Linked DNA regions of Homo sapiens: all the other regions are linked to region 3. The links come from fine-mapping of genetic effects on gene expression. A gene starts in region 3. Each other region holds a variant in brackets. All regions are shown on one strand. Distances are from middle to middle. Region 1 has its middle 50 kb from the start of CHST2. Region 2 overlaps PAQR9 (progestin and adipoQ receptor family member 9). Region 3 holds the start of U2SURP (U2 snRNP associated SURP domain containing).

Region 1 (10,820 bases), 68 kb after region 3:
GCAAAGAGATGAAATATTAGATATAATTACTTTCATAATCTTATATGTAAATAAATCTAGTTGCCAAACCTCAGGATCTTTGAGTTCTTCGGTTATTTTTTGTGGAATGTGATTTCCGTAGATTAATTTTGGACCTTGATCATCTTTAATGAATCTAGATGAGCTCATACAGAGCTTGAAAAGACAAAGTTCACAAAAGCAGAGTGCCTCTTTGAAAACCTGGCTTTTTGTTTTGCGTGGCCCAGCGGGACTTGCCCAACCATAGAACAAAATACCTGGACTCCAGAGATCCAAAGACTCCCTTCAGCCTTCAACCATTGCAAGGCAATCACTTCCCAGCTGTGTGGTCTCAGTCACGATGTTTAACCAAGGCCTTTTGAGCCCATTTCCTCATTTGCAGCGTGAGCATGCCATCTATTTTACAGGATTCTTCAACAAGTTGAGCATCTACTATGCACAGGCACTGGGGAAATACAGTGATGAATAGAACAGACAAGGTCCTTATGTCTTGGGACTTACATACAAATGGGAGGAATCAGACAAAAATTTGAACAAGATAATTTCAGATGGTAAAATGTACTGAAAAACAGGGTAGTAGGATAGAAAGTGAGGGAGGGGTACCTTTCTTAGATAGGGTAGTCAAGGAGAAACACTGGTGGTGAGGTTGAGTAAGAAGGTAGAGCTGGCTGTGTGAAGATAGAGCACCAAGTGTTCCAGGCCGAAGGTGCTGGAAGTTAGAATGTTTAGAGGGAGACCATGTTGGCGTGTTGAGAAATGGAAAGCAGTCAGTGGAGTTCAAGTGCAGTGAGGAAAGGATGGTGTGGTATGAGATGAGGTTAGGTAGGGCTTGACAGGTTTAAGCAAGGGAGTGAGTGACCTGATGTAGTTTCAAAAGACACTTCAGCTGCTGTGCAGAGACAGAATGGGAGAAGGACAAGAGAAACAGGGAAATGAGTTAGGAGGTTCTTGGCTGGGAAGATTAAATGGGATTATATAAATACAGTATCTAGCATGCCCCAAGCACATAGCAGCTCTCTAATAAATAATTTAACTCCTCATTTCCTTGGATCTTGTGATTCCTTTCCCTGCAACAGAGGTTGTATTCACCTTAAGATTAGCTTCACTTCAGTGCTGTTATACAGAAATCAAACCAGTAGATGATCAGGACATAGCACTCCTGTTGCTCTTAGGCTGGTATAGGAGGAAATTATAAATTGTGTTGACTACAGAAGCGTTAAAGCATTAAAGAATGCTTCTGTAGTCACTGGCACAACTACCTACTGCACTGTAGAGTGTTAATAGATGTTACTTGGAAAAAGGAGTTGTGTGATAAACTAAATTGGGAAATCCTGGGCTAAATTGGCTTTTTTATAGCAGTGCTTCTCAGAACCTTGAGTATGTACTGTGTATACCCAGGCGGGAGACATTACGTATTTTCCAAACGTAACTCAACTCAGAGGTCTAAGGTTCCACAAACATACTTTCGAAAACACTTTAGAACTGGGATTGGGCAGCTTTGTTTTTCAGAGTCTGATGATGTAATTAATGGGTTGGTTAGGTGTGTCAGGGTCTTTTGGTACAAACAACAGAGACCATCTGTAGCTAAATCAGGAAAAGAGTTCAGTGGAAGCCTATGGAGGCTCAGAGAATTGACAGTGCATCTGGAAGGCCAGATGTAGGAATCAGCAGGACAGGAGACAGTGGCAGGACAAGGAAGCCAGAATCACAGATGGGGGCAGTCTGGCCAGGCTTCAACCTTCAGCCTCTCTATCCATCTGCTGGAGGTTCCAGTTCTAGGAAGGCGGCACTTGATGGACCTAGCCTTTTGTGTTATAAACTTTTACAAAATGTAACTTTAATGACTACAAATGATCATTTACTGTAGGTTACTTTGCCAAGACCCTGTTGTTAGAAATTGGGTTGTTTCTATTTTTTTCTTTTCTAAGTAATGCCGTGATGAACATCACTTTGCATAACATTTTTGTTTTCATTCATTTAAAAATTATTGGAATTGTTGGGTCAAAGAATATAAACATTTCAAAGCTCATGTGATGCATGTTGCCAACTTGCCTTCCAAAAATGGACTATTTTTGACTTCTTCTAATGTTGGGGAATGGGTGCTTTGCTGCACCTTTGCCAGCACTGGGAATTTATGACATGTCATTTTAAAAAGTAATTCAAATTGGATGCAATTACTTGCTCCCAGCTGGGAATATTTCTGGGATCTATAAAACAGGGAAATTTTGGCAGGCTATAAAGATGACTGAAGTAACTGGTCTAGTCATCTGAAGAAATTTGTGAGTCTAAAGCAATCCCACCTGCCTCTTATGCCATACTGTGTGGCAGCCTTGTCCCTAGATCATAGATTGCTTTTGACAACCAAGATAGAAGGCCGAAGACTCCCAGTATGAATCTATTGTAACTGAGTTTTTTAAATAAGTCTCTATGCTATTTTTAGAAAAGAAATTGTATAATATAAACTTAAATGTAAGTCTTTGCGTATCTTCAGCTGTTTTCAGTTTTTATGTGTAATTTTGCCAGGTTAGTGTTTGTTTGCTGGCATATGGTCATGGGGAAACTTCTCCTCCCCTGTGACTCTTGAGCTGGAATGCTGTGGGATCCTCCTGCACTGGAAGTTAATCCGAAACTGGACCTTAATGTTCTTGTCCTCTAAATCTTATCTTGTGAATCATACTTCTCCTAAGCTTCCCACTCCCATCATCATGGGTGATGAGACACCTCCTACCTTCTGGGCCAAGGAGGAGCCGGGGCTTTTGATGGGGGTTTGCCCCTTTCCCAACAAGGGTCAGGTTAGGAGTGAACCTCCCTTAAGCCTCTACTCCGTCACCAAAGGTCAAGAAGAGAGACCTTCACTAATTAAAAACTGGTCATGAGAAAACCACAGACACCTAGCCCTCCCTCCTCTCCTTTCCCTTCTCTCAGCTTCTCACAACCTCTCCTATGTCATTTTCCTACATTTGACCAAGGATAACCCAGTCCTTCATCCCAGGTCATGCCAGTTATCACGAGAAGCCCAGACTCACAGGTTACCCCTCACCTCCGACATTCTCATGTTCTGTTCTTAGCAAAATTCTTCCTATCTTCATCCTCTTTTCTGAATGTTCCTATTACCTTCTGGTGTGATATCTGGACTCTGAAGTTTGGAGGACACCTGGGGAAGGTTTGTGGCCTCCATGTATAATCTCGTTTGGAAGTTTTAAGTTTGCATTCCCATGTGCAGGTGCAGCTAAAAGGCTCCCTCCCTTTCCGCAGTAGACATTGAGGTCTTCATGGATCAGGTAGCCCCATGCGCCTATGATTTCAAGGGTGATGAAAGATCCTAGACAACTTCCAGGGCATTTTCTGGACACATGCGTTTAAACTGGGTCAAAGCATCATGTTACCCAACAGGAATACATTCAGGCACTAATGCATTTGCATTCAAAAGGCAGCCTATTATCTCGAGAACGACCCTGGATCAGAGTCAGGCAACTTGGCTTCTTGCATGAACTGGCTGTAGGAGCTTGGGCAATTTACTGTCCTTGTACCTGAGTTTCCTTGAGTCAAATCACTGTTTCCCAGACACCAGTCCACCGACCAGCTACATCAGAATGTTATGGGGGGCTCTCAGAACTCAGACTGCCAGTCCCTACCTCTGAGATTCTGGTTCAGCAGGTCAGGGCCTAGGACCTGATGTATATATATTTTCTTTTAATTATGGAAAATTCAAACATATACAAAAGTAGAAAGACTAGTATAACATGACATGCACAGCCACTTTAATTTGTACTAAAATTCCATACATAATTTTAATTGTACATATTTTTGTATGTTTCTGTATAAGACATGGACTTTAGTGGCTACTTAATATCATGAAAAATCCTGATATTCTGAAATCTACAATTGTCTTACAAGGTTTTTTTGTTTGTTTTTGTTTTTGTTTTCAGTTTGCTTGAAGTCTTTCAAATGAAGTTCATGCATTATGATTAGTTAATATATCTCTTAAGTGACTTTTAAGCTATTGATGTCCCTCAGTTTCATTTTTTCCCCTTTAAACTTGTTACAGAGACTTGGTGGTTTGTCCACGAGACTTTCCCACAGTCTGGATTCTGCTGAACACCACAACCACCGCCCGCCTCCCCAAGTTTATTTTCTGTAGATCAGTAATTTAATCTAGAGGTTTGATCAGATTTAGTTCAAAAATTGTGGCACGTCTACTTCATAGATGAAAGCACTTCTTTCAGGGCCACATAATGTCTGCTTGTGTCTCTTTGTGACATTTGCAGCCATTGATCATCATTGCCTGAGTTCTCCAATTCATTAGGGTCACAACTGGTGATTCCTAAATTTATCATTTCTTTTTCACTTATAACTTGAGATAATATAGAGAAACTTCCTCACCTACTATTGACTTACTCCACAGTACAGTTCATATAAGAAAGGCAGCCTCAATGCTTGATTTTTTCCTTTATTTTCCAGTTTTCAATGTCACTTTCATGCTGGGATATTATTACCATTCTCTAAAGTGACCACTAAAGTTTTATTATTATTTTTAGTATTATTACAACCTCATGGATTTTATACTGATGTGCTTTATCCATCACAATTTTTTTTTTTTTTTTTTGAGACGGAGTTTCTCTTTTGTTGCCCAGGCTGGAAGGCAGTGGTGCAATCTTGGCTCACTGCAACCTCCGCCTCCCGAGTTCAAGCGATTCTGCTGCCTCAGGCTCTTGAACAGTTGGGATTACAGGCATGTGCCACCATGCCTGGCTAATTTTGTATTTTTAGTAGAGACGGGGTTTCTCCGTGTCAGTCAGGCTGGTCTTGAACTCCCAACCTCAGGTGATCCACCCACCTTGGCCTCCCAAAGTACTGGGATTACAGGTGTGAGCTACCGCGTCCGGCAATCCATCACAATTTTTATCCTTAGAATTCCCCTCTTTGGCCAATGAGAGCCTCTTCAAGTTGGCTCCTGAAGTCCCTTTGACACATGACATTACTCTTTCATAGCTTGTTTTCTGAAATGACAAATTCTCCAGCCTCATCTTGTACATTTTTTACTCCACACCTAAAACAACCATTTCTCCAAGGAGCTTTCGGGAACTCATATTATTTAAAGACTCTTCAGGTAATTCTGATGTGCAGCCACGTTTGGGAACTGCTAGGCATCTGAGGTTCCTTCCAACTCCAAAACACTTTTGTTTTTTCCTCTTGCTAATTAAAGTAGCAAACATATATTTGAAATGATTGTTAAACACTAATATGAAATAAAAAAATACTTCAATGATATATTCTTTTCCTTTGTGCATTGTGCTTTAAATTTGTACAATGTTTTAAATGCAATTTGACCAAATGTATTATGCTTTAAATATTTTCATACACTTTGACCCAGAAATTCTACTTTTAGAAATCTGGTCTAAGGAAATTTTTTTTTTTTTTTTTTTTTTGAGACAGGGTCTCACACTCTTGCCCAGGCTGGAGTGCAGTGGCACACACAGTTCACTGCAGCCTCGACCTCCCCTGGCTGAGATGATTCTCCCACCTCAGCATCCTGAGTAACTGGAACTACAGACATGTACCATCATGCCCGGCTAATTTTTGTATTTGTTTTGTTTGTTTGTTTGTAGAGACAGGGTCTCCCTATGTTGCCCAGGCTGGTCTTGAACTACTGGGCTCAAGCAATCCTCTCACCTCAGCCTCCCAAAGTGCTAGGATTATAGGCGTGAGCCACCACACCTGGCAGAAAACAATTTTTAAAATATAGAAAAAGAGGCATGCATCAGGGCTTATTTGCAAATTGTAAAACATTAGACATAGCTCTAACATCCAAAAATCGGGAGCAGTTTGTAAGACTGCTAAGAATTTACTGGAAGGAATATTATGAGGCCATTAAATGATGCCTGGGAGGACTATGCAGCTGTTGCACAATTGTATTTATGATATGTTAAAATATGCATACGAATAAAGTTTAAGATGGAATATATCAAAATGATAGTAGTAGGTTAGTAGACTTTACAGATGATTACTCCCTACACTCTGTCCTTT[T/C]CCACAATTTTTGCAAAAATTACTTAAAACCTGCATTTTAAGATTCTGTAAGTCTAATATTACATGATTAACTGACTTGCTGTCCTTTGTCATTTAGAAAGAACAGGGCTTAGGAAAGGAGGAGGCACAGAGTATAAGTCACAGTCCAAAGTTTGGGGCAATACCTGGGGAGTATTGGGACTGGAGGAGGAAGCGCTGGGCTGAGAAAGGCCGGTGGGTGTGACAGTGGACATGACTCTCCTGCCTTCCCTGCAGTTTTGCCTGAGCGCATGTCTTTGTTATGCTCACCAACTCATCAGCTAGGAGCAGGGCTTGGAATCTCTGAAAGTTCCTTAGTCTCTCTCTTGGACATCCCAGGCATTTCCCCACTGGGGAGTACTGTGGATTCATTTTCACACCAAGAAAATCAACAAATGCAGCTTGCTGGGGATGACTGTCCAGCCTGGCATGCTAAGGAATTTGGTAACCAAGGGAATCAATAACAATTTGTTTGGGCTTGTACTTTTAATGATTTAGACTTTGAACAAGCTCCTTTGGATTGTATTTATTGGTATATGAGGCAACTTTTCTCAAATCCTTTCTCACATCTGGAAGCCTTTCCCTGGCTTTCTCTCTCTTGACAGGAGGTGGCACCTGAGGTGAAGCTGAGTGGGAGGAAGGATAGAAGCCCTGGCTGGGACTGCTAGCACCCACCCAAGCCCCTTTGACCCCCATCTGCTGGCGTCTACTCCGCTTATCACCCTAGCATTTCACCCTCACGGGAGAGATGATGCTTGAGGGGTAAGGACGGAGAGGCAGACAGGAGCCACATTACAGAGGACTTGGAATGCCAGGCTGAGAATTTTGGACTTTCTTCTGTAAGAGCCACAGGAGCTTTTAAGCAAAGGAGTGACGTGGTCTGGCATATAATTTAGGAGAACCACTCTGGTGCAGACTGGGGAAGACGTTGGTGTGAGGTGAAACCAGCGTGAGGGCCGCCAAAGCTAGGCCAGGTAAAAGGCCGTAGGTAGTAATATGGTAGAATGGTAGTAATATCCCAGCATGAAAGTGACAGAGCTGGCTGCAGCAGAAAGGATGGGATTGATTCATCCATGGAGGAAAAGGCTGCTGTTAGTTACCAAATTCTGTTGTCTTTTCCTCCTTGGCATGTGGCTGGACCACTTGTCCTATGGCTGCTATAACAACCACAAACTTAATGGCTTGAAACAACATACATTTGTTTTCTTACAGTTCTGGAGGTCAGAAGTCTGACAGTGCTGGCAGGGCCGCTTTCTCATGGGGGCTTCAGGAGAGAATCCTTTTCTTTGCCGTTTCCACCTTCAAGAGGCCACTTGCATTCCCTGGAGTGTAGCTACTTCTGCTTTCAAGGACAGTCACTCCAACCTGTTTCTATCTTCATGTTTCCTTGTTTTTGATTTGTTCTGTTTTGTTTTGTTTGGCCCTCTTTGCCCACCTGTATAACCCAGTATCATCTCATATTAAGACTGTCACGCGCGTTCGTGTGAAGAGACCACCAAACAGACTTTGTATGAGCAATAAAGCTTTTTAATCACCTGGGTGCAGGCGGGCTGAGTCCGAAAAGAGTCAGCGAAGGGAGATTAGGGGTGGGGCCGTTTTATAGGATTTGGGTAGGTAGTGGAAAATTACAGTCAAAGGGAGTTGTTCTCCGGAGGGCAGGGCCCAGGGTCACAAGGTGCTCAGTCAGGGAGCTTCTGAGCCAGGGGAAGGAATTTCACAAGGTTAATCGCTCAGTTAAGGTGGGGCAGAAACAAATCACAATGGTGGAATGTCATCAGTTAAGGCAGGAACTGGCCATTTTCACTTCTTTTGTGATTCTTCACTTGCTTCAGGCCATCTGGATGTATACGTGCAGGTCACAGGGGATATGATGGCTTAGCTTGGGCTCAGAGGTCTGACAAATACTCTGACCTTAATCACTCCTGCAAAGTCTCTTTGGTACTTAAGGCAACATGCTCACAGGTTCACATAGGGATGAGGACATGGACATTTTTGAGAGCCCTTATTTTGTCTACTACACCACTGTTCCCAGTCTGGCCAGAGAAATGGGACCTCTTTTTCAGGCCTGGCCCACAAAACCTCCCTTGTCCTCCATGTCTTTCCTTTTCTCTGTGCTGAGGACCCAGAGGGGAAGCAGAGCCAAAAAATGGGGGCGCCTGGGGCCCTGGATGACCAAGCAAAAGGCTAGTCATTCATAACTGGAAATTTTCACTTTACAGTTTATACACTCTAAATTTTTAACATTCTTATTATCTCTTATATTATTAAGTATGTGTAGAATTTAAAAATACCGCTGAGGAACATACACACTGGGCCTAGTTCAGTGGAGAATAAGCCTCTGTGTTAAGCCGCTGTTTAGTCAAGATAAAGATAGGCTTGGAGTCTCCGATGGAACCCTTTGCCTTTGAGGTGTCAGGTGGGCATCCCAGTCCATATCCAAAGTCCAAATGTAAAAGTAAGAATACATCTGTTACCTCAGAGTGAAAAAATTAATAAGGCAATAGATCTAAAAGATCATAGATCTAAAAGATTCATAAATGTTTCTCCTCCTTTCTGTTTTTAAATTAGGTTTTCATAGGAACCGATTTCTGGGGAGAACAACATATTTTAGATGCAACAAATTCATCTGCAGTCAGGCTTAGATCAAGCTTCGTGAGAGGCTTCGCGGCAGTGGGGGTGGAAAATGGCAGGGATGAGACCATGATGGTGTAAGAGGGAAAGGGCTGGAGGAACAGGGCAGGGGTTTAGGGCAGCCCTCACTGGTGGTCCACGTTTCTGAAGGAAAACAGCTTTGGTTAAGGTCTGAAGTATTTTTCAATTCTACACATACTCAGAAATAATATGAGGTAATAAGAATGTTTAAAATGCAGCCCCCGCCCGGCCAGCCGCCCCATCCGGGAGGGAGGTGGGGGCGCCTCCGCCTGGCCGCCACCCCGTCCGGGAGGTGAGGGGCGCCTCTGCCCGGCTGCCCCTTCTGGGAAGTGAGGAGCCCCTCTGCCCGGCCACCACCCCGTCTGGGAGGTGTACCCAACAGCTCATTGAGAACAGGCCATGATGACGATGGTGGTTTTGTGGAATAGAAAAGGGGGAAAGGTGGGGAAAAGATAGAGAAATCAGATTGTTGCTGTGTCTGTGTAGAAAGAAGTAGACATGGGAGACTTCATTTTGTTCTGTACTAAGAAAAATTCTTCTGCCTTGGGATGCTGTTGATCTATGACCTTACCCCCAACCCTGTGCTCTCCGAAACATGTGCTGTGTCAACTCAGGGTTAAATGGATTAAGGGCGGTGTAAGATGTGCTTTGTTAAACAGATGCTTGAAGGCAGCATGCTCGTTAAGAGTCATCACCACTCCCTAATCTCAAGTACCCAGGGACCCAAACACTGCGGAAGGCCGCAGTGTCCTCTGCCTAGGAAAACCAGAGACCTTTGTTCACTTGTTTATCTGCTGACCTTCCCTCCACTATTGTCCTATGACCCTGCCAAATCCCCCTCTGAGAGAAACACCCAAGAATGATCAATTAAAAAAAAAAAAAAATATTTAAAATGTAGAGTGCATAAACTGTAAAGTGAAAATTCCCAGTGGCGATGGCTAACAATTTTTTGTTCAAGTTTCCTGAATTGTTTTTCTGTTCATGTACTCATACACGCATGCCCACCCGCCTCAACGTTTTCAACTTGCCTTTGATACTTATGAGATCTTGGGTATACTTCCTGATCATTACCTATAAATCTGCCTCATTCTTTAATTACTATTGAGAGACATTTAAGCTGTTGTTATTTTTATTTTTTCTTATTACAAGCACCGTAAGAGTGAATAGGCTTTGAGCACTGGGAGAGCTCCTCGGGGAATCTATCCACTGAAGAATAAATCTCTTGGAGTGAAATTGCTGCATCAAAGAGTAGGAACATTTTACAACTTTAACAGCCATTTAACATTTCCTCTAAAACTCTCATACCAATGCCCCTTTCTTGAGGGGCAGAAGTTGTAGAGTCAAGGAGGGGCTTGGAGCAGAGGGAGGATGGATTCTTGTTTGAAAACCTGAGGGAGACAGGAGGCTGGGGCCCAGAAAGAATCAGAACTCACTGCTCTGAATTGCAGGGGCCCAGGGGCCAAGCCCTGGGGAGAAGGGCCATGCTTGATCTAATGCTCCACTGTCACTGTATTGAAATTCTTAATTTTTTAAAGAGAGGCCCCACGTTTTCATTTTACACTGGGTCTCTGGAGGAAAACCGGGGCGGGGCCAGTGAGTACTTGTCCTTGTGGTGAGGGAGGAGCTGCATGGACCGCAGTTGGCTTGAAGTCTTGGGAAAGTTGGACTCCTAAGGAGGAGGCGCTCAGTGCACCCAGCTGGGGTCTGAGGGCCATCGACCCAAGGAGCAGCTGGACTGGGGGCCAGTAGGAACCTTTGTATATTGGCTCCCTTAGAGTATCCTAAAACAGTGCCCCAGTGGTTCTAGAGTGTGGTCCCTAAACAAGCGGCATCAGCATCCCCAGAAACTGGTTAGAAATGCAGATTCTCGGCCAGGCGCGGTGGCTCAAGCCTGTAATCCCAGCACTTTGGGAGGCCGAGGTGGGTGGATCATGAGGTCAGGAGATCGAGACCATCCTGGCTAACATGGTGAAACCCTGTCTCTACTAAAGATACAAAAAATTAGCCGGGTGTGGTGGCGGGCGCCTGTAGTCCCAGCTACGAGGGAGGCTGAGGCAGGAGAATGGCATGAACCGGGAGGCAGAGCTTGCAGTGAGCTGAGATCG
Region 2 (10,820 bases), 50 kb before region 3:
CCATTCATTGTATCCTCATGCTGTGAATGGAAAGGGGTCCAGATCCAGACCCCAAGAGAGGGTTCTTGAATCTCATACAAGAAAGAATTCAGGGCAAGTCCATACAGTAAAGTGAAAGCAAGTTTATTAAGAAAGTAGAAGAATAAAAGAATGGCTACTCCATAGGCAGAGCAGCCCTAAGGGCTGCTGGTTGCCCATTTTTATGGTTATTTATTGATTGTATGCTAAACGTGGGGGGGGGGGCGTTATTCATGCCTCCCTTTTTTAGACCACATAGGGTAACTTCCTGACGTTGCCATGGCATTTGTAAACTGTCATGGCACTGGTGGAAGTGTAGCAGTGAGGACGACCAGAGGTCACTCCCTTTGCCACCTTGGTTTTGGTGGGTTTTAGCTGGCTTGTTTACTACAACCCGTTTTATCAGCAAATTCTTTATGACCTGTATCCTGTGCCGACCTCCTGTCTCATCCTGTGACTTAGAATGGCTAACCTCCCGGGAATGCAGCCTGGTAGGTCTCAGCCTTATTTCGCCCAGCCTCCTCTATTCAAGATGGAGTTGCTCTGGTTCAAACGCTTCTGACAATACCACTATGAAGTAAGAAATACTTCCCGCTCTATTTTACAGATGAGGAAATGGAAGATGAGAGGCAGAGTAGGTTGCCTAAGGTGATAAGAGGATGAAATAACGGCGCGAGAAGTCGAACCCACTCCAGATCCGCCCATGCAAGACACAAGAAGCCACAGGAGGAGGAAGGGGCAGGCGGGAACTTAGAGCACCTTGGCGTGCCCAGCCCGGCGCCTACTCCCTCTCCTCTGCGCCGCTGGAGGCCTCGAGTTCGTGTCCTCTCGGCGCCTGCCTGGCTCCCCTTCCGAGGCCGCAGCGCCCTGCCATGCTGGCCTCCCCGCGCTCTCCCTGAGACCCAAGCCGACTCCCAGGCCGACCCCGCCGCCTGCGCCCAGCTGTGTCGGATCTACCTGCCCGCGACCGAGGAGCTCAGGGACTGCCCCAGGAGATGCTGCCTCGCCCGACAGGCGCCCCGGCCCCTGCCACGCCTCCCGCGCCTGGAAAGCACGACATCCCGCAGGCAGCATATCTGAGCCTGCATCGGCCTGCGGGAGTCCAGCCCGAGCCATTTTCCTGCCTGTCCCCACTCCTGACAGCCTGTGCCCAGTTCCCCTCAGCTCTCCCATGGTTCTCCAACGGTCCTTTCTGGGAACCCTTACAGCTTGGAGATCGTCTCACGGTGACCAGGGTGTTTCTGAGTTGTGTGTGTGTGTGTGTGTGTGTGTGTGTGTGTGACCACTGGAATGTCAGAATCCCCCATCCCTACCTTGGAAGTCCCGCTTTTTCCTCCCTACTGTTAAGGAACTTCAGACTGCCCCTCCACAAGGTTGCCTGCCTGGGCAGTCATCCAACTCCATGTCCACCGCAAGGACAGTGGGGACAGTGCACCAAGACACAAGGACCAGGCTGGACCCTAAGATGCTCCGAACACCTGGGCAGCTGTTCCAGACACACCGTCCCATTTTTCAGGATGGCACCTGTTTCCTGTTAGAGATTTCTTAAGGGAGATTGTGAATAATCACCAGTGATTTTAGTGGCAGCCAAGTGACACTGAAGCTTGGCAGATGTCTGTCAAAACCAGCTACGGGACTGGACAGCGAGGACCAGGAGAAAAATGTTTGTTTTTTTTAAAAGATACTCTGGTATTCGTATGACAAGACCCATTTTGTTATGCCCAAGAACAAGGGGAGAACCTCATCTTCGCCATACTTGAGTCTGACTCAGTGTGGCTGTGACTCATCCTTCTAGGACAGTTCCCCTGCCACAATAGCGCAAATGATGGCCTGGGGACTAAAATGACTTTGTCAAACAGTTGAATGGAGAGAAAGTGGTAGAGTTGCCACCTAATGCCAAGAACCCCCCCACCCCCGAGCTTTTCCTTTTTTTTTTTTTTTTGAGACTGAGTTTCGCTCTTGTTGCCCAGGCTAGAGTGCAATGGCACGATCTTGGCTCACTGCAACCTCCACCTCCCGGGTTCAAGCGATTCTCCTGCCTCAGCCTCCCGAGTAGCTGAGATTACAGGCATGCGCCACATGCCTGGCTAATATTTTTGTATTTTTAGTAGAGACGGGGTTTCTCCATGTTGGTCAGGCTGGTCTTGAACTCCCGACATCAGGTGATCCGCCTGCCTGGGTCTCCCAAAGTGCTGGGATTACAGGCGTGAGCCTCCACGCCCGGCCAGCTTTTCCTTTTAAGCTGTTCTCTTTAAGTTCATTGTAGCCAGGTTTCATGGCGAGGCACCATGATTTATACCACTGGCCCTGGATCCCCTCACGTGTTTATGTGACAAACTGGCACCTGTATATTAACAAGCTTTACATTTGGCAAGACATAGGTAACACCAGAAATCAAAGTGAGGGGCTTCTGGCAGGATTTCACATCTGCTAGCTTTTATATTTGATGCTTTCTCTAGGAGCTTGGCAAAAAGAAAACACCAACATCAAAAGTAAAAAAATCAAATCAAAACAAAAAAATCAAACCAAAATAAAGATAACAACAGGCGAGAACTGGGACACGATCTTCTTATAGTTGGCTTATTACCTGTATCTGTAGAATTATTTATTTCCTTAAACCTGTTTCCTTTTGTACTTTATGACATTTCTGTGTAACTAAAGTAAGAATCTGAGAGAACTCTAAACTGATATTTATAGATCCTACCCTCAAAACAGATAGACAGTGAGGTAGGGATGAACTAATGCAGTCAATCACTGAATTAATAAGAGCTGGAGTAAAAACTAGGCCATTAGCTTCACTCAGGTCATCCTGAAGTAGTAAAGTAGCTCTTAGAGAATTACATTTTGTACTAATAAATGTTCACTTCTGCCCACCTTTCAGTTTTCCACATATATTTTTACAACTGCAAAGTATCAAGATAGAGAGAATGGACATTATGGGAGCAGGCAGGATGTGAAACCTCTTATTAATCCTATGGCTTAAAATTTATTTATAAATTGCAAAGTTAATCAGTTTCCTTAAATCTTCCATCTTCCATTTCTTTTAGGAATTTTTTCAGCTCTTAAGAAAAAAGTTTTTGGAGGTCAGAAACTGATAGTGGACTTCTGAGAAAGGGAAGAGAGAAAGTAATTCAAAAGTCTTGTCTCTATGTGGAATATCATTTCCTTTCAAGCTGCAGAGTTTGAGTGGGTGTTTATTTGATCCTTCTGTTCCCCTCTCCCTTTCTTCTTTTTGTATTCCCATTAAGTGTAGGTTACACCTTTTGTAATTGCCCCACGGTTCTTGAATATTCTCTTCTGATTTTTTTCTAGTCTTTTTTTCTTTGTTTTTCAGTTTTAGAAGTTTCTAGTGACATAGCCTCAAGCTGATTCTTTACTCAGCAGGGTCTAGCCTAGTAATGAGCCCATCAAAGCATTCTTCATGTCACAATGTTCTTGATTTCTAGCATTTATGCTTGATTTTTTTCTCAGAACTTTCATCTCTTTGTACGTTATCTGTTGGTTCTTGCATATTGTTTATTTTTCCATTAGAACCTTTAGCATAATTATTTTAAATTCCCAACCTGATAATTCCAACATCCCTGTCATATCTGAGCCTGTTCTCATGCTTGCTCTGTTTCTTCAAACTGTGTTTTTTGTCTTTTGGTAAGCCTTGTAATTTTTTGTTGGAAACTAGTCATGATGTACAGGGAACAAAAGAACTTGGTACTGGTTCTTGCAGAAATTTCTTCTTGTGGGTTCCTGCTCTGTTAAATTGTGATTCTCTGTGTCTACCTGTTATGTCTCTCCAATTTTGGGGGGCAGCAGTTTGCTCTGTGACTTCATGTCTCTGATGGACCCAAGAAGAGTTGTTGATTTTTCAGTTCAGCTTTTTACTTGTTAAGATGGAGTGACAACTTCTAAGCTCCTTACATCCCATACTGGAAACTCTTAAGTCCTCAGTCAATATTCTTTCATTACAGGAAATGGGAACCTTCTGATGAGCTTAAGGTGGGAAAAAGGAACAAAAAATAAAGAAATAATGTATTGAAAGGCTATGGGGTAACTCAGAGAATTATATGAAGACCTGTGCAGGCAAGTCATGGAGAATAAAGAATTGAGAGAAACTCTGGGCTTGCAGGGCTACCTTGGATTGCAGTCCCACCAAGCTTCAGTAGGAAGGATTATTCCTCAAAGGAAATTCAGGGCACTGCTAGCAGAAGCAGAGGGATGCATTACAGGGATAAATACCTTTGTCCAGGGAAAGAGGAAACCAAGCAGTGCTGAGATCCTGACTCACTCTGGCCATTCCCCACTGGAATGGAGGACCACAGTTAATATTTTAGATCAAAGACTTACAGGATTCTCACCCAGTGTTAGAATTCTGAATACTCTTTAGTGAATTTTTGGTTATTAGGGGTTGAATTTATATATGAACATTATATAGATGACATTGATACATGAGAATAGCACTTATTGTTCATAGGATTTATTTTATTTTAGTTATTTTTATTTTTTAATTTTCTATAAAGATGGGGTCTTGCTATGTTGCCCAGGCTGGTGTCAAACTCCTAGCCTCAAGTGACCCGCCTGCTTGGCCTCCCAAAGTGCTGGGATTACAGGCATGAACCACTGAACCAAG[C/T]CTGGATTTATTTGAGACTTTTTCATTTGACATATATTCTAAGTATCCATATTGTGTCTCCCTTTACCCATTTTAAGTAAACATTATGGAAAAAAATTCCTAGGTAATTATTTTCCTAGTGTTTCTTTTTTTGCTTTGAAATAGAATCAAACTCTCTGAAGTAGCTGTCTGATTCAGAACCTGCTTTGTTTTGCCAAGGAAAATTAAAGATAAAAAATTCAAGGCCCAGTAGACTACTTGCCAATGATTGATTTGGGGAATAAAGAGCATTCCTGATCACCATCCTTTTCTGCTTACCTGATATATCAGTTTGGGGTCAATTGCAGACAACAGAATCTACTGAAGCTAGTTGGTGCTAAAGGGGATTTATTAGTAGGCATTGGTTGGCTTACAAACTCACTAGAAGAATTACAGGAGTGGACTCAAGGTTTTCTGAACAAGAATTAGAATGTCTCTAAATTGAGCAGGAAAGCTGACAGAAAGTGGCAGAACCAGGAAGCCACTGACCAAAGTCCTTCAGCTATACCGGTATAGATGCTCTATCTTCACTCTTTGAGAAAATTGATGTCAGGCATGAAAGTCAGCAGAGGAGACTGTAAAAGAGTAGTACAAAAGTCACACAGGCCAAAGGAAGAGTGTTTCAAAGAGAACAGAATGGGAAAGAGGATCTCAGAAAAGTCTATCCATCAACAAGGAGGCTGATGGAAATCTTAGAAGAATCATTCTAGTGAGCTTAATGAAGCCAGAATGCAGTGGGTAAAGGAGTGAGTGGGAGGTACGAAAACAAAGGCGGTGTGCACTACTCTTTCAAAAAAGCCTGGCTGTGAAAAAGAAGGGGGGGGGGTGTTGTTAGAGTGTGACATAGTGGGGAGAGGGTGACTTTCTCATTTTAGAAGGTGGGAGAGACTAGTAGTACATTTTTAAATTCTTGTAGGAGGAATCCTATTGAGTAGAAGTAGTTGATGAACATACAGGAGAACAATGTGTAATGGATAGAGTGTGGTTCTTGAAAAGGTGGGAAGTGGTAAGATCAGAGTTGAGGAGAGGGTGGGAGTGGTAGGGTCAGATATTTAAAATATCTGCAATAAAGAATGGGAGAGAGCAGTTCAGGCATCACTTCGGGGTCACTGGGTAGCTTTGAATCCTAATACAGCATATCTGTACTTAAAAAATGAAGTATCACAAATATCTAATAGGTAGATTCTAAAACGTGGGACTGGCTCAGTCATGGTGGGATGGGAGCTGTGCAAATCCTGTTATACATGGCTGAGAAGTTAGCAAATTTTATGGATCTGTTAAGATACTTCTGATTACAAGGCATAAATATAACTTAAACTCAATTGTAAAATGAAGGAAATGTATTGGCTCACATGGAAAAGTCCAAAGGTGTAGAGGTGGGCCTCAAGCACAGTTTGATCAAGGCTTCCTTTGTGAGTTACTTTGTTTGGCCCCACTCTATGTTCTGGCTTTCTTCTTATCTTGTCTTCCCTCAGGATTACACTGTGACTGTTAGTAGCAGCCAGGGCTGAGGATTCCAGGAAAAAACAAGAAGAGTGGGGAGGGACAGGAAAACTTACCTGCCTTCTGCTGCTTTTTGTTCCAATCCAATCTTCCGTGATTTGTCCCCTTGGCAGAACCTAACAAAAAGCCAGAGGGCAAGAGAGCTGAGAATCAGCTCCAATACAGAGCAGATGAAGGGAAGTATGGGAACGTGAATCTAAAAGCAAACAAGCAGATATTTGGCACAGGCTCAAGAGATACGAGACAGCCCAAATGGAGCAGCCCTCTTAGGAGTGGCCCTGGAGCAAGGTAGACAGAGATCTTCCCAGCACACAGAACCTGAAGAACTCATTCCACTACCAGCTTGTGGAGGCCTTGGCCATCCTAGGCCACAGGGGGTGATGGCTGCCGTATACTGGTGGCACAGTACGCCATTAGAAATGGTATGCTGTTCGGGGTGGGAGTTTGCCTCTCAGCTAGCCAATTCTCCACCTTTCTACAGTGAGTTGGGGGTGGCTGAATGTCTTATTTAGTCACATCCTGACCTGAATGAAGGGAATTCCCTTCATTCACATGGAGAACCTGAGTGCTGGAAGTTTGCTGCTGTTCTAAGTGAAGGCAGCTTTGGGTTGTCTTTGGGAAAGGGGACAAGAGTGCTTCGATGGTACAAATAAAAGTTGTATTACATTAAGGAAAGCGTATATAAAAAAGGAGAGTGTGTGCTAGCCAGCTAGGGGCTGGGCTGTGGTTGCTATTGTTTTGGGCTGTTAGCATGGTTTTCTTCCCTCCTCCACATGCTCCGGAGCTTTAACAGGGACCCCACACTGGTAAGACACTTGGCTTGGAAAGCACTTTACACAGTGCACATGGCTCAAACCGCCAGTCTCCCATGATCTTTGTCCACACACTCTTCAGGAGTGTGGATTATAGTGGAATGCCTGTGGACCAGACAGCCAATGGGTTGGATGAAGTGGACAGCTGTTGTTTTTGTCTGCCCATCATCCCTTCCTGTGGGAACTAACCTCCACCCTCCATGCGGTTCTGGAAAGGGCTCAAATCACAGGCACCCATACCTTGTCTCTAGAGGAGTCCATGTGACCTCAGGTAGGCCAATCTGATACTCTTTTCCAGGAATTTGAATTGGGGACAGACACAACAAAGCCAGGAAAAAGCTGACCATGGCTCATCTGGTGGCAGTGCCCTGAAGCTAGTTTATCTGGTGGCAGAGCCCTGGAGAGGCAGGGGTTTCTCACCAGAATCTCTAGCACTGCCCTGCTCCCTTCCTTCCTGAGGCCTGGGTGGTCAGCTATGTGCACTCCCCAGTGTTCCTCCTACAAACCTTTTCTTCCTTCATGAGAGTTTTCTGTTCCTGATAACCAAAAACCTCTGAAACAATAATTAACATGATTTAAAGACTTAGCCATCACCACAAAGTTTAAGAGTTGAAGTTGGATCTCCCTTGCTGGGGTTATTTAGGACAGAGATACTGTAAGTTCACACACATCACCAAGGTTCTGGGACAAGATGTGTTACACAGAAGCCCATGGACTCTATATGCTTTTGAAAAACAGAAAGGTGGAAGAAAACATTTCATAACCTGGGTTATATAAGTATTTTCTTACAAGATATGGCTTCAAAGTAACACATGAATTTTCTTTTTAATTTATCTAATATGATAAAAAAGTAATATACTAAGGGTGCTTCAGGATAAACTTATACTCTTGCCTTCTGCCTGCTGCATTTTATGAAAAGGGTAATGTTTTTTCTTATCTTGTTTATTAGTGTTATGAATATTTTACTGTTAATTTAGGAATACCCTGTTGCTGAAAGATAACTGTTGGACATGCACAGATGTGTACGATCCTAAACACTGTGCTTACAAATAATTTATTCTTATTTCATACATTTGTTTTTCAGCAAAAATGCATAGTCATATTATTTACACAGAATTTCATATTCAAGACTGTAGGGAACAAATGTCTCAGGAAACCAAAATCATAGCAAATCATACAACAGAAATGTGTCACATTTTTTTTTCAGCTACATGCACAGAACTGGCCAAAGTGATACCTATTTCTATAGATTATTTTATCACATAATGGAGAATTAAGATTAAGTAACGCTTTTCTGTTAGAATACACTATTGATTTGAAACCACATGTTAGTCCATGCCTGGAAGCTCACGTATCCTGAGAATGCCTCTCTTGCTAGCTAAATACAGTTCTTTAGGGTGTAGGTAAGGACTGGAGTAAGGGTAGCCTAAAAAGAATGAATCTGGCAAGCAATGGGAAAAATTTCTTTGTGCGCGCATCATTTTTACTCCCTTCTTTCTCCGTCATCACCCTTAAATGAACTTAAAAACAAAAACAAAAAACAGACACATGAAGGTCTCTATTTGATCACTGTTAACTCTTCCCTCTGCCTCTGACCTGAGGAAAAAATGAGTATGCCCCTTCAAGTATAATGCCCTTTACTGCAAAAGGGGACCTGCTGGTTGTACATTCTTGCAAATCCAAGAACAGTCACCGTATTTAAAACCTTTGTTTGGAAATGGGTGAACCTCATAAGGCAGATGGTTGGAGAAGGCCTAAATACACATGGAATCCTTTTAGAAATCTTTTCTCTTCAAGCTGGATATGTGGAAAGTGAAGTTTCAAGGGTAGTGAAAATGGCCTGGGAGATGGCTGAAATGAAGAGAGTTCAGAGCGACCACATGGTCTATACAAATTAAAAAAAAAAAAAAAAAAAAAAAAAAAAAAAAAAAGCAGCCACAGAATCCTCCCCCAGCCCTGAAACACAGAAAGCCTTTTTCTGGTCCATATAGTGATGGCATGGGGCTTATTCTTCTTTCTATTCTGAAGAAACAAGGGACAGAGTTCCAGGGCTGTACATTTTATTGGCTACGTTATTCACCATGCTTATAAACTCATCAAAGTGAAAGGTGCCTCACCTCTTTATTGCCTTGGTACTCAGTTGATTGGCGAGAATAATTTTGTTCATAGCCTCCAGAAAAGAAAACTAGCCTGTTTGAAAAGTAGACCTTCTGTGCTAGGTTTTGCTGGAAGAGGGAATTTAATAAAGTTTCTAACCAGAATTTTTAAAAAGACTTTTAAATTTAGCCATGAGACACACCTAAAACCTATCTCATGTGTTTTCTTCTTTTTTAAAAAATGATTTGTATCCTTCTTTAAACTATACATTATTTACATTTTTAAAGACCTACTAGGTCTTTATCATTTGAGTAAGAGCTCAAGGTGATTAAACTCACCGGATAAAGATGAGTCTTTCCAAAAAGCTCTGGTTCTCACTTATGTGCTAAGGCCTGTTTTTACAAACAAATGTCTATTAGAAACTTTACAAATATAAAATTAAAATACTTTTTTAAAAAATTTTCCCAGGAATTTTATTTTTTGCATCCAGCATATTAAAAACAGATTATGCTTTCCAACTAGAGATGGAACTAAGAAGAAATGAAATTGTGTCCCCATGCTTTATCTAGAAACAAGAGTTTATTTACACAGTGTCCTTCTTCAATATCATGGTGTACTGGGAGAAGCAGGGCCATCTTTACAGCACGGCCAAATGACCACCTGAAGACCCCCCATTCTGCCTTGAGTGCTTATTGCGTATTTTGGGTGGAGGTATAAGGCATGAGGGAAAGGTGGCCTGTCACTTTTACACATTGGAGAATAATTTTGCACATTCAAGAAATTTTCCTTGAGAAATGCCATGTTTGGAATAGCTTCCAGAGATTGATTGAGAACAAAAGCATTAAAGCAAGTGCATTACATTTAGAAGCACAATACATTGGGAAACATTCTCAAAAGCTCAAAGAGCAGGCTGTTTTTCCACTGAGCTAAATAGTAAATAAGTGTGCATACTGTTGCATATAGGTATATGTTCAGAGCTTTCAAAAGTCACATCCTGCCACAATTAACAGCTAAATGAGCATTCTTGGCCCCTGACCTATAAATAAACACTCTAATTCTGCAACTTGCTCACAGATTCTTAAGGAGCCACTCTAGAACAAAAATGCCTACAAACTGGTTAGAAATCTGCAAACCAGAAATGCAATACAGTTATCCTTTTTTAAATGACAACAACAGAAATTTATATTAGCTTTTGGAAGAGTGACTAAGAAGAACTGACATCCATTTTCACAATTAAGAAATAATTATTCACAATACCGAAGAAGCCAAATCTTCAATAAGAAAACGTGTGGCCTCTCACAAAAGAACACAGTAGTGCTCAGCTCCAACCACTGAATGCTTCCTTTTTCAGTTTGTCTAGGCTTGTTCGCTTTTTGTCAGGTGATATATGTCAGAGAATATTGACAATCCTTCAAGAAAATGATTCAAAAGGTGATGTACAATTGGCTGGTGCTATCCCGTAATGCCTTTTTGCCTCTGTCCTAATTTTATGGAAACAAAGTAAGGGCTTTAAGCCAGGAGATAAATGTACCACTCAAAATATACCTGGACACTCGTGCTCAGGTCAAACGCTACAAGATGTGGTTAAGCTGACAAACAGAATTCCTTGCCTGTCTACTCGAACACTAACACCCTGGGAGTTCACATGCTTTTCTAAGGACAAAATTTAAAACTCAGGCTGACTGCACAGTTGAACTTGCTGCCCCATTCTGACTGTTTGACTCTAATCCTCTTTGTTCTCCCCTTCCCAT
Region 3 (10,820 bases):
ATTATTATTATTTTTTGTAGAGACGGAGTCTCGCTTTGTTGCCCAGGCTGGAGTGCAGTGGTGTGATCTCAGCTCACTGCAACCTCTGCCTCCTGGGTTCAAGCATTTCTCCTGCCTCAGCCTCCTGAGTAGCTGGGACTACAGGTGCACGCTGCCATGCCCAGCTAATTTCTTTTGTATTTTAGTAGAGAAGGGGTTTCACCATGTTGCCCACGCTGGTCTCAAATTCCTGAGCTCAGGCAATCCACCTGCCTTGGCCTCCCAAAGTGCTAGGATTACAGGCGTGAGCCACTGCGCCTGGCTGCCACTGCTAATTATTATTGTCAAAGGAATCTGTATATAATCAATAAGTGAGTCAGGTAATTTTTGTGTGTGTGAGAAAGGGGGAGCAGCTGCTGTTGCTACTAAAACCTTATTCATAACACTTACGTTGTGGGGTGGGTGTGGGGCAGGCAGTCAAGTGCAGCAGAAGGAATTTTCCATTCCACACTGACCACACCTCCGTGAAGGCTGTTTCCTAATTATTCCTAGAAGCAGCTAGGATCTGTCTTAGCAGAAGACATTAAGTCTGATTTTTAGTTGTCTCTCCTTTTATCTTCTTTCTTCAGAGCCTAGCACAAGCTAGAAACTCAATAAATGCCAAAGAAGCAAATGGAGTGTTCCTTTTACCAGCCTATATCCTGAAACCCAGAGAGCAGGGAAAAACTGTTTAAAAACTGTCTAGAATGAAAATGCCACCAAGTAGGAGCAGTCCATTGGCACAATACAGGAGGCTGTAGCTTTGGGGCAATCATTTTTTAAGGTCTCTATCTTTCAGCATGCACAGGTTCCACAGCTGTTTGTATTGTTAAATACTTTCTCCACTCCACTTTTTTCCTCCTTAAAGAAATCAAAACATTTTTGGTGGGGAGGTCTAAAAATTATTGTGAGCCCTAGGCACTGAGTCTCCTGTACCTTACTAACAAGTCAGTTCTGGCTGGTGCCTGGGGGAACTGGTTGGTAATGTTTTGATCATCACCCCAGGTAAGTATTACACTGTACATCAGAAGTAGAAAACTGAAATGCCTACAAGCAGGCTGGGTATGGGGAATTTGTCCACCGTGTATGATGAGTTGGTGGCTAAACTGGTGTTCATAGCCCCCTTCCCTAGAAGTCGCTGCAGGCCACCTCACCTGGATTGTCCCCCAGTGTTGCCAGACTTCCCCATTTTTCAAGAAAGGCTAGAAACCCTGAGTTTTATGTAAAATCTCTCTGTTTTAAAATGCTAGCTCAAATTTCAAAGAAAAAATCTCCCTGAATGAACCAAACAAAACATCTCAGTATTGTATATGGCACTACTTTGTAATTTCTCTTGAACGTATCTGCTGCAGGGAGAAGCCTTAAAAACAAATGGCAGGTGTGGGCACCAGAAAATCAACACATCGGGAAGAGAAAAATGGCATGGTTTTACTGTAATTGTAAAAAGGTAATACTAGTTGCAGTAAATTGCATGATTCTTACTGTTTATGTGTAGTCCCTTAGCACTAATCTAATTATTCAGATTCCATAAAATTCCATTTGGATTATTTTCATGCTATTTCACTTTCCTGAATTTGTAATTTGAGTAATAGGGCCAGAATTTCATGACGTAATAGGGCCAGAATTTCACGTATCAAGAATTCTTACTCATAATTGTGATGTTCAATTTTTTTTTTTTTTTCCTGAGATAGGGTCACTCTGTTGCCCAGACTGGAGTGCAATGGCAAGATTCCCAGTGCTCTGGTGGTCCTCCCACTTCAGCCTCCTATCTGGGACTACAGATGCATGCCACCACATCTGGCTGATTTTTAAATATTTTTTTGTAGAAATAAGGTTTTGCCATGTTGCCCAGGCTGGTCTCGAACTCATGGGTTCAAGCCATCTGCCTGCCTTGATCTGCCCGCCTTGGCCTCCCAAAGTGCTAGGAGTACAAGCCTGAGCCACTGTGCCTGGCAATGATTTTGAATTTTTAAAAGCGTACTTAACCCTTAATAAAGGCCCGTATTATTTCTAGTCACATCATATTTGTCTGACTTGCTTTGGGGCTTACAATATAAAAAAGAAGAGAGGAAAGAAGTCTGCATTCTTTTGTTTTTGACTCTTCAGGAGTATTTAGTAAAAATTATTTTTAAAATAAGTAGGACTTTGGGGATTTGACTGAAAAGCTACACATATTCACTTTCTAGTGACAAAATCAGCCTGTGGCATTGTCAGAACACCACAAGGCATACCCAGTCCCACTTCTCCTCTTCATCTCAGCTGATGATTTCACTTTCTAATCCTATAAACAGTTAAGATCTAGGCTGGGCGCGGTGGCTCACGCCTGTAATCCCAGCACTTTGGGAGGCCGAGGTGGGTGGATCACGAGGTCAGGAGATGGAGACCATCCTGATTAACATGGTGAAACCCCGTCTCTACTGAAAATACAAAAAATTACCCGAGCGTGGTGGCGGGCGCCTATAGTCCCAGCTACTCGGGAGGCTGTGGCAGGAGAATGGCATGAACCCAGGAGGCGGAGCTTGCAGTGAGCCGAGATCACGCCACTGCACTCCAGCCTAGGCGACAGAGCGAGACGTCTCAAAACAAACAAAACAAAACAAAACCCTGTTAAGATCTAGTGTGCTGAGCTCTTCAAAGTGGTAAAGTATAGGTTCCTTGGAAACAGAAGGGTCTCTGATTTAGGATTGGTGGGGAGGGAGGACTGTAAGCCTTCCTGGAGGAAGGGACATCTTCACCCAGAGTAGAATTGGATTAGACTTCAATGAGAGGGCAGGGCAAGGTTGAGGGAAGAGGCCCAGAACTGAAAAAGTATGACAGAATCCAGCAGTAGAAGTAAATTGAATTGGGTTGGAGGGTGCAAGTCATTCTAATTTCATGTGTAGCACTTGTCACTTTCAGATCATTTCTTGTTTACTGTCTGTTCTTCTACCCTCATACCCTCACAGAGAATAGGAGGCCTGGCCTGCTGATTCCTTAGTGGCTGGCATATATGTCTGTTAATCTTTCTTGAGAGCCAGCCTTGTGTCAGATCCTGTTCTAAGTGCTTCCCTCGCTCCCCACCCCCGCCATTCAACAAAATTCTACTTCTTCAGAGCTGGTTCAAATGCTTTCTTCTCTATGACCACCCCCCCCCCTGCCCCGCCCCGTCTCTTTTCCTCACTCCTACTCTCAGAATTAATTACTTCTTTCAGAGGTCCCTCAGCTATTGATCCTTCCTTGCAGCATCAATTTAATTATGCATAGTGTCAGTTTGCGGTTTCCTTGTCTCCTCCATTTCTCATTAAGTTTTAAATCATATGAAGACAGTGCATGTTTGTCTGTCTCTGTAAGCCCTACAACACTTTGGGCAGGCTTTTACACACAAAACGGGGCTCAAAAATATTTTGAATAAATGATTTAGGGAGAGGTCCACAAACGCCCTCCACTCCCACCCTAGTCCTCAGAGCAATACTTTAAAATAAAAATCTGACCATTTCAACCTTGTTAAAGGCCGATCTTCATTCTGAGAACAGAATTCTAACTCCTAAGCACGATGGTGACCTCAGGGCGCTGTGTGAACCTGCACCCGCACCCCTGTCCAACCACGTCCCTCCCCACACCTGGTCTAATAAAACGACTGCTTTAGGTGACCTGCACGATCGGCTGTACTGATTCATGCCACAGGCTTTTACCTCAATTACTCCCTCTGTCTGGAATGTCCTTTCTTTCCTTGCCTGGCCTGATTCGGGCATGGCCTTCTCAAGCAAGCTTTCCGTCTTTGAATCTAGGCCCTGATTAAGAACTTTTTAAAAAAGTACTAAGTTCAGAAAAGTTTAATATGGTGTTCCCCCATTTATGTGATTAAAAATGAAAACAATACTAAAGTGTAAAATGTAATCTTTAAAATGTCACACAACTTTACATGCATGCTAGATTTAGAATACCATCTGTATTTACGATTTTCTCTTATTGACTGTCTCCACGCGCACCCACTCTGCAGACGCCCTAAAGAGTGTCTATCGGATCACCCTCAAGTTGGGTCAAACGGCTCCTCTTCTCGGCTTTTCGGGAGCAACCCTATCTCAACATTCACCATCTTAAGATGAGCAGACTGCAAGTTTGCCTCTCCCACCAGTATGGGAGCTGCCGAAGCGGCAAGAACAGCGTTTCCGTCCATCGAGCGCCAGGTCACCAGTCAGCTCCAGTCCTATTTTGAGTTGAAGTAAAAGCTCCTCCCTAGATGGCCAGTGCACGTCTTTAAAAAGCGACTCCTTTCCCACAAAGGAAATACGACTGGTTCGCATCTATCAAGGGTTGGCGTTGGGATAAGAGGGTGAAGTATCAGCTGGCCCTGATTCTCTGAATTCCCGGACCCAATAACGCGACCAAGCACCGTGACTCCCAGGAAAACTAGCGGAGTGAGCGCGGCTGAGGAAATTACTGACACCGGAAGTCACGTGAGCGGCTGCCCCTAAGGTCGCTATCTCGACAGTCGACTATTCAGCCTTGCAGGCGCCTCTGGCGGGCTTCACTGAGATCCGCTCTTTCGGTGCTCGACTCGCCCGTGCTGCTGCCGCCGCCGAAGGAGGGGCAAAGCTCAAGATGGCGGACAAAACGCCAGGCGGATCTCAGAAGGCCAGTTCAAAGGTAATTTCTGACAAAATTTCGTAAGTCAGCGGATCTACCACTGTCGTTTGGGGCCCACAGACGCTTCTGGCCTGTGAGAGGCGATTGGGATTGGGGTCTGCATTCTAGTCGCGACGGTAGGCCCGGGCGCCGCCGCACCGTTGTGCGCAGGTTGAGAGGCCTGGTATCTCCCCATAGTCCCAGCCGGGATTCAGCTCGAGACTGGCGTGCCCAGTGGGTGGAGGCGTGAGTGCTTCGGCCCGCGCTTGGCATTGGAGTGAAATCAGGAATTCAGATTGAGGTCTGAAGCAGTGAAAACGCTCTCCTGTATCTCAGCTTCCTGCGCCCTGAGGCCGCCAGACAGCGCCTGGGAGAGAGGCGGGAATCGCTTCCCGGTGCTTAAATGTCTGCTGCTTTTTTCTCGGTTTTGGATCTCACTCACTTCCGGCCTCCCTCAGTTTCCCTCCAAGGAATGAATAACCTCTAGGGTCGCCAGCTGTGAGGGGAGGACCACTAGGGCAAAGACACGGAGTGGGAAATGCAGAGGCGGGAGCAGCTCTCCTTTGCAGTGCTGCATAGCCAAGGTTAATGTACAGTCTACACGTGGTCTTTACCTTAACGGGAAGTAAAAAGCACTTTTGAGGGTAGAGGACTCGTGGTCTCTTTCTTTATGTTGAAGAAACAGTGAAAAGAGAAGCTCCGTAGACTTGTAAGCTACATACGATTAGTAAATTGCATTTGTGTTTACAGGGAACCCTGGGCACGTATTGTGAAACCAGTGAGCTGTGGTAGTAGTTAAGCATTAGTACGGTTGGGTTCTTAGTTGCCATCTTGGGCGGGACATTTAATCGTTTTTTGGTTTGGGTTTCTGGTCTCGAATATATTAAAAGTAATTGGTACTGCCACGAGGTAGTTAAACTTTCCGATGCTGATGCAAGAAGCTGTGTAACACTTTCAGGTGCTAGGGACTGTTAAATCTTAAAGAGTGTGTGACTGTAAATCGGCTATTAGAAAGTTAAATTTACGGTAGGAGAGAAGCTTGCGTTTACAGTTCTGAGAAACATCATAACTCGTTTTCTACTTGCTTTCTCTAATCCGACTGTTTATGCCATTTGGTGAACGATGTACACCAAAATAATTAATTCATAATTAGTAATGGTCTTAACAGACATCGTTTAGTTACATAGAAACTTTGGTGAGGGGCCAGTTTCGGCTTCTTTACAAGGTATTGTGTCAGTTTTTTTTCCCCCTCCTCAGTACATTTTCTCGTCTCCCTCTCTTTGGGGGCGAGCTCTACCAACTCTTCTCAACAGACTCCTGACAAGAACATACCGTTAGGGAGCTATTACTAAAGCTAGCTACGTTCATAACAAGTCGTGCATAAGCCTCACAATTTTTGTTTCTTCTCAAAGTAATATTTTAAGTATTCCCTACTTGAGGTCTTGGATACATTGAAAACATTTCAATGTCTGTGTTCAGGCTTCCTTCTAAAATAGTGCTTCTCATGACTGAATGTATGGCTGTTCTCAATAAATAAATTATTGGATTATCCAGTAATCTTTTCTGTTTATATTGCCTTAGATTATAATCTCTTGATGCTATTAGCAGATTTCTTACTGATGTCTGTGAAAGGAATCAGAATATCTTAACTAATTTGGAGGCTGCATAATGTAGTGGGAAGATTATGAATTTTGTTAACAAGAGATTTGGGTTCAAATCCTGACTTGGTAATTAATTATATTTGCGATAATAAGGCAGATTGCTTAAACTCTGGAGCCTCAATTCCCTCATTTGTAATGTAGATATAATTCTTTTTTTACATGGTTGATATAAGGATCAAATGAGATAATGTCTATGAAGTACATAATAAATCTTAATTTCTTTCCCCTCTTTTTGTTTTTAGAGGAAATCAAAAGTTCTTAGCTTTCAAAATGTCAGGATAAATTTTAATCCTGTGATTTGGAATCTAAGTCATCAGCTGTCATAATGACTGCCCAGATAGCTGCTTTTTATTTATTTTATTTCTTTTTTTTTTTTTTTTTTTTTTTTGTGAAAGAGTTTCGCTCTGTCGCCCAGGCTGGAGTGCTGGAGTGCAGTGGCACAATCTCGGCTCATTGCAACCTCCGCCTCCCGGGTTCAAGTGATTCTCCTGCCTCAGCCTCCCTAGTAGCTGGGACTACAGGCGCCCGCCAGTACGCCCGGCTAATTTTTTGTATTTTAGTAGAGACGGGGTTTCACCATGTTGGCCAGGATGGTCTCGATCTCTTGACCTCGTGATCCACCCGCCTCAGCCTCCCAAAGTGATGGGATTACAGGCGTGAGCCACCGTGCCCCGCCCTGCTTCCCTGCTTTTTATTTCTAACACATAATTTATTAGAGAAATTGTAAGATCATTTTGGCTAATACTACAGTATTTAGAATTTCTAGCCTTTGATATCTGGTTTGATTTCCTTTCCTCTGGAAAGAACAGATGAGTGGCTTATATTTTACAATACAGATGGAGTGAACAGATACTTCTGTTTCATGATTCGTCGTTTTCTTTGGTAGTTACATTCCCGTTAATATGGATAGGGATGCTTATTATATTTCTAGACATTGGGAAAATGTTAATTTTAAATGTACAATATGGCAAAATTATTAACATTTCTTAATTATAAAAAGATTAAATTAGATAACCTCTACAGGTCTTCTAGTTGGGGTGTTTTTTTTTTTTTTTTTTTTTTTTTTTTGAGAGGGAGTCTTGCCTTGTCGCCCAGGCTGGAGTGCAGTGGTGCAATCTCAGCTCACTGCAACCTCTGCCTCCTGGGTTCAAGCAATTCTTCTGCCTCAGCCTCCCGAGTAGCTGGGACTACAGGCGCCTGGCCAATTTTTGTATTTTTAGTAGAGATGGGGTTTCATCTGTTGGCCTCTTGACCTTGTGACCCCCCCCCCCCGCCTCGGCCTCCCAAAGTGCGGGGATTATAGGCGTGAGCCACCGTGCCTGGCTTCTAGTTTTAAAATGATACTTTATGTATGTGTATGTACTTGAATGACTTACCTTTATTCATAATTGTCCCTAATGAAGAGACCCCTGTGCACTTTAATTTTCTGTGTAATTTTGTTGTGCTTTGCATTTTAGAGCCTGGCAGATGTAGACATTTAACAAATGTTCTAGAAATGAGCTAAAATTTTCCTGTGCATTTGTTTGTTTATCACTAGTCTAAAATATTGCTTGGTTGGGGAGGGGTGTTGATGTTATGTAGTAGCTTTCATTTTGAGAGGAGAGAGAGAGAGCCTGTAATTGTTTACTTATAAAATTGTTAAGCATATTTCCTTAGAATTTAATTTATAAAAAAATTACTGTTTTTGACTGTCAATTGTTTGCTTACTCAGCAAAATTAGGATATGAAGAAAATGTAGTATTTTCTTTCCTTCTGCCATCTCCTGTGCTGGTAATATTGCTAATGTAATGTAATTGTGTGCCCTGCTATTTCACTCTGTGACTATGGCTTTTTTTTTTTTTTTCTTTTTTGCCGTATCGCCAAAAATTGAGTTAGGTGAATGGATAAAACAAAATACTACAGGCTTCCTTGGACATCCAGTGCTGAATTGCTTTGGGAACTGTTTTGATTGACTGCCTTTGCTGATTAACAAAAAGTATCACTTTTAAGAAATAAGTAAACTGAGGACCTGTTCAAGGCTTGTGAACCTTAGGTATTTATTACTGCCAGTTTTCATTTTTTGTGGTACCTGAAAGTTTATGAAAAAGTCCAAACAAAATACAAACCTTGAAAATCAGGCTTTCAAACAGTTTGCCAATTTTAAACTGAATCTTTATTATGGTTTATGGTTGTAACCTTATCTTAAAATGTAAGGTAGTTTTTTTGGTAGAAGGTTTTGTTTTGGTCTGGAAGGTAGAACTGAACTTCCTTCCATTTTCTCGATTGATAACTTTTTCGAAACTTGAACCTGCAGCACGGGTGCTAGAATATGCCTGTTGGTATGGTTTTAAAAATAATTCCTATCTTTCTGGATTGAATTGTTTTCTGAAAGTCCAGTTTTTATTTTCACTTTTTGTTTTTTATTTCTGAAGCTTTGTTTTCCTTGGAAAGTAAACCTAAGAAAGATACCCATTTGCCTTACTGGGTATCATTGAGAGAAGAGCTCATTTAGTATGCCGGTTGAAGTATCTACCCCTCTACCCTCCACCCTTTTTTTCAAGGAGCCATCATTTTTGGAATAAAAAGAAAAACTTGCTACAAGATATTAAAATCAAAAATAGTAATATTACAAACTATTTGCCTCATTCTAGTATAGGTGGTTTTAACATTTTATTGCACATCAGCTGTGAGCTGGATATTTTGCTGAAATAACGTTTTTGAAAGCAAGATACATTTGTCAGTAGCACTTGAGGCTAACGGTAGTGTTAGACATATATTCCTTGAGTTAAGTTTTTTCACAAGGCCCTTCCTCAGTTTAGATAAACTATAGGTTATTCAGAGTGTACTTACAACTTTTCATATAGTATTGGTAGTGTTTTGAATAATTTAAAAAATCATCTTAGGTTTGTTATTTAACTTTATTTATATAGTGCTTGTATTAATGATTTTGTGAATGTTTTTTAAAGATGGATACCTTGATTTGGCTTGGATAGTGGTATTAAGCTAGGTAGCTGTTGTTAATGAGTGGACAGCATAGTATGTTGATAGTGTGGAGTGTAATTTTGTTTGGTGGTAGGCACTTGTTCTGACAAGTCAAGTATATTGAGACTCTGTCGCTTGCCAGATCTTGTGCTTGATGTTGAGTTAGAAAATGTTAAATAAGAATGTACCCATTTTTAGCGGCCGGGCACAGTGCCTCCCGCCTGTAATCCCAGCACTTTGGGAGGCCAAGGCGGGTGGATCACCTGAGGTCGGGAGTTCAAGACCAGCCTGACCAATATGGAGAAACCCCATCTCTGCTGAAAATACAAAATTAGCTGGGCATGGTGGCACATGCTACTCGGGAGGCTGAGGCAGGAGAATCGCTTGAACCTGGGAGGCGGAGGTTGCCGAGAGCCGAGATCATGCCATTGCACTCCAGCCTGGGCAAAAAGAGCGAAACTCCGTCTCAAAAAAAAGAATGTACCCATCTTTGAGGAGCATGCTGTCTAGTAGAAGAGAGTCAGCACAATGCAATTAAGGTGGTGTTATGCTTCCTATAGGAGAGATTGTTAAACTTGTGGAGATGAAAGTTGCTTCTCTTAGAGGGTGAGAGGAGAAACGTGGGAGATTAGGAGACAGATACACGAATGGAGAGCTCACTAGGCAGAATGGTAGTGTTGGAGGAATGTTGCTGTGGATAGCTTGGTAATTTGGAAACTCAGATGTGGGGTTTTCACTTAAAGTAAAATTGGAGCAGCCAGAAGAAAACTAGTTTTGTTCTCAGCCAGCAAGCTATAGGGCAACAGGTAGTGTAGTTGGCTTCACTTTTATCCCTTTAGCAGCCATCAGAATGATCTTTTTTCCTTTTGGATTTTCTTGCTGTCCCTCCCCACATTTCTACTGTCTGCTTTCTCTGCCTTAAAATAAATTTCTCTTGTGTATGCTACTTTATTGTGTCAAACTTCCCTTAGTCTGCCTTTTCACTTCTTCCTTTTGTATTTTTCTTTTCTTTTCTTTTTTTTTTTTTCCAGAGACAGGGGTTCTTGCTATGTTGCCCAGGCTGGTCTTGAACTCCTGGCCTCGAGCAGTCGTCCCACCTCAGCCTCCCTAGTAGCTGAGATTATAGGCATGAGCCACTCCCTCCAGCAGCTTTTGGGTCCTTTCAAGAGATTTTTTTTTTTTTTTTTTTGAGACAGAGTCTCGCTCTGTCGCCCAGGCCTGCAGTAGTGCTATCTCAGCTCACTGCAAGCTCCGCCTCCCGGGTTCACGTCATTCTCCTGCCTCAGCCTCCCGAGTAGCTGGGACTACAGGTGCCCGCCACCGCACCTGGCCAATTTTTTGTATTTTTAGTAGAGACGGGATTTTGCTGTGTTAGCCAGGATGGTCTTGATCTCCTCTGACTTTGTGATCCGCCCGCCTTGGCCTCCCAAAGTGCTGAGATTACAGGCGTGAGCCACCGCGCCCGGCCGACTTCAGGAGATCTTTAGGCATCATTGGTTTGTGTTCTTCAGTTAAAAATAAAAAGCCAAACTCAAGACAAAGAATACAGTTCAGTTCCAGGTTAGGAAGAGGGAG

The links. PIP is the estimated chance that this variant, and not a neighbour inherited with it, causes the effect.
Region 1: its variant is the best candidate, but not a certain one, in a credible set for the expression of U2SURP in whole blood (INTERVAL, PIP 0.72).
Region 2: its variant is the best candidate, but not a certain one, in a credible set for the expression of U2SURP in whole blood (TOPMed, PIP 0.75).

What each region holds. Positions count from the first base shown.
Region 1 is chr3:143,064,790-143,075,609 of GRCh38, forward strand. No RefSeq gene overlaps it. Among named protein-coding and RNA genes, the nearest start is that of CHST2, 50 kb to the right of the region's middle. RefSeq lists enhancers at 7,439-8,221, 9,004-9,785 and a silencer at 7,586-7,784. The variant T/C (reference allele first, on the strand shown) is at 6,046.
Region 2 is chr3:142,946,575-142,957,394 of GRCh38, forward strand. PAQR9 (progestin and adipoQ receptor family member 9) reads right to left here. Exons shown (of 1, transcript NM_198504.4): 1 at 8,011-10,820. Among named protein-coding and RNA genes, the nearest start is that of PAQR9, 12 kb to the right of the region's middle. The variant C/T (reference allele first, on the strand shown) is at 4,640.
Region 3 is chr3:142,997,030-143,007,849 of GRCh38, forward strand. It overlaps U2SURP (U2 snRNP associated SURP domain containing), which reads left to right and starts at 4,541. Exons shown (of 28, transcript NM_001080415.2): 1 at 4,541-4,644. The coding sequence starts at 4,600. It overlaps PAQR9-AS1 (PAQR9 antisense RNA 1), which reads left to right. Exons shown (of 5, transcript NR_125393.1): 4 at 1,371-1,465; 5 at 3,998-4,061. It overlaps LOC100289361 (a long non-coding RNA gene), which reads right to left and starts at 4,438. Exons shown (of 1, transcript NR_034032.1): 1 at 3,816-4,438. RefSeq lists enhancers at 1,979-2,979, 3,979-4,978, 4,253-4,902.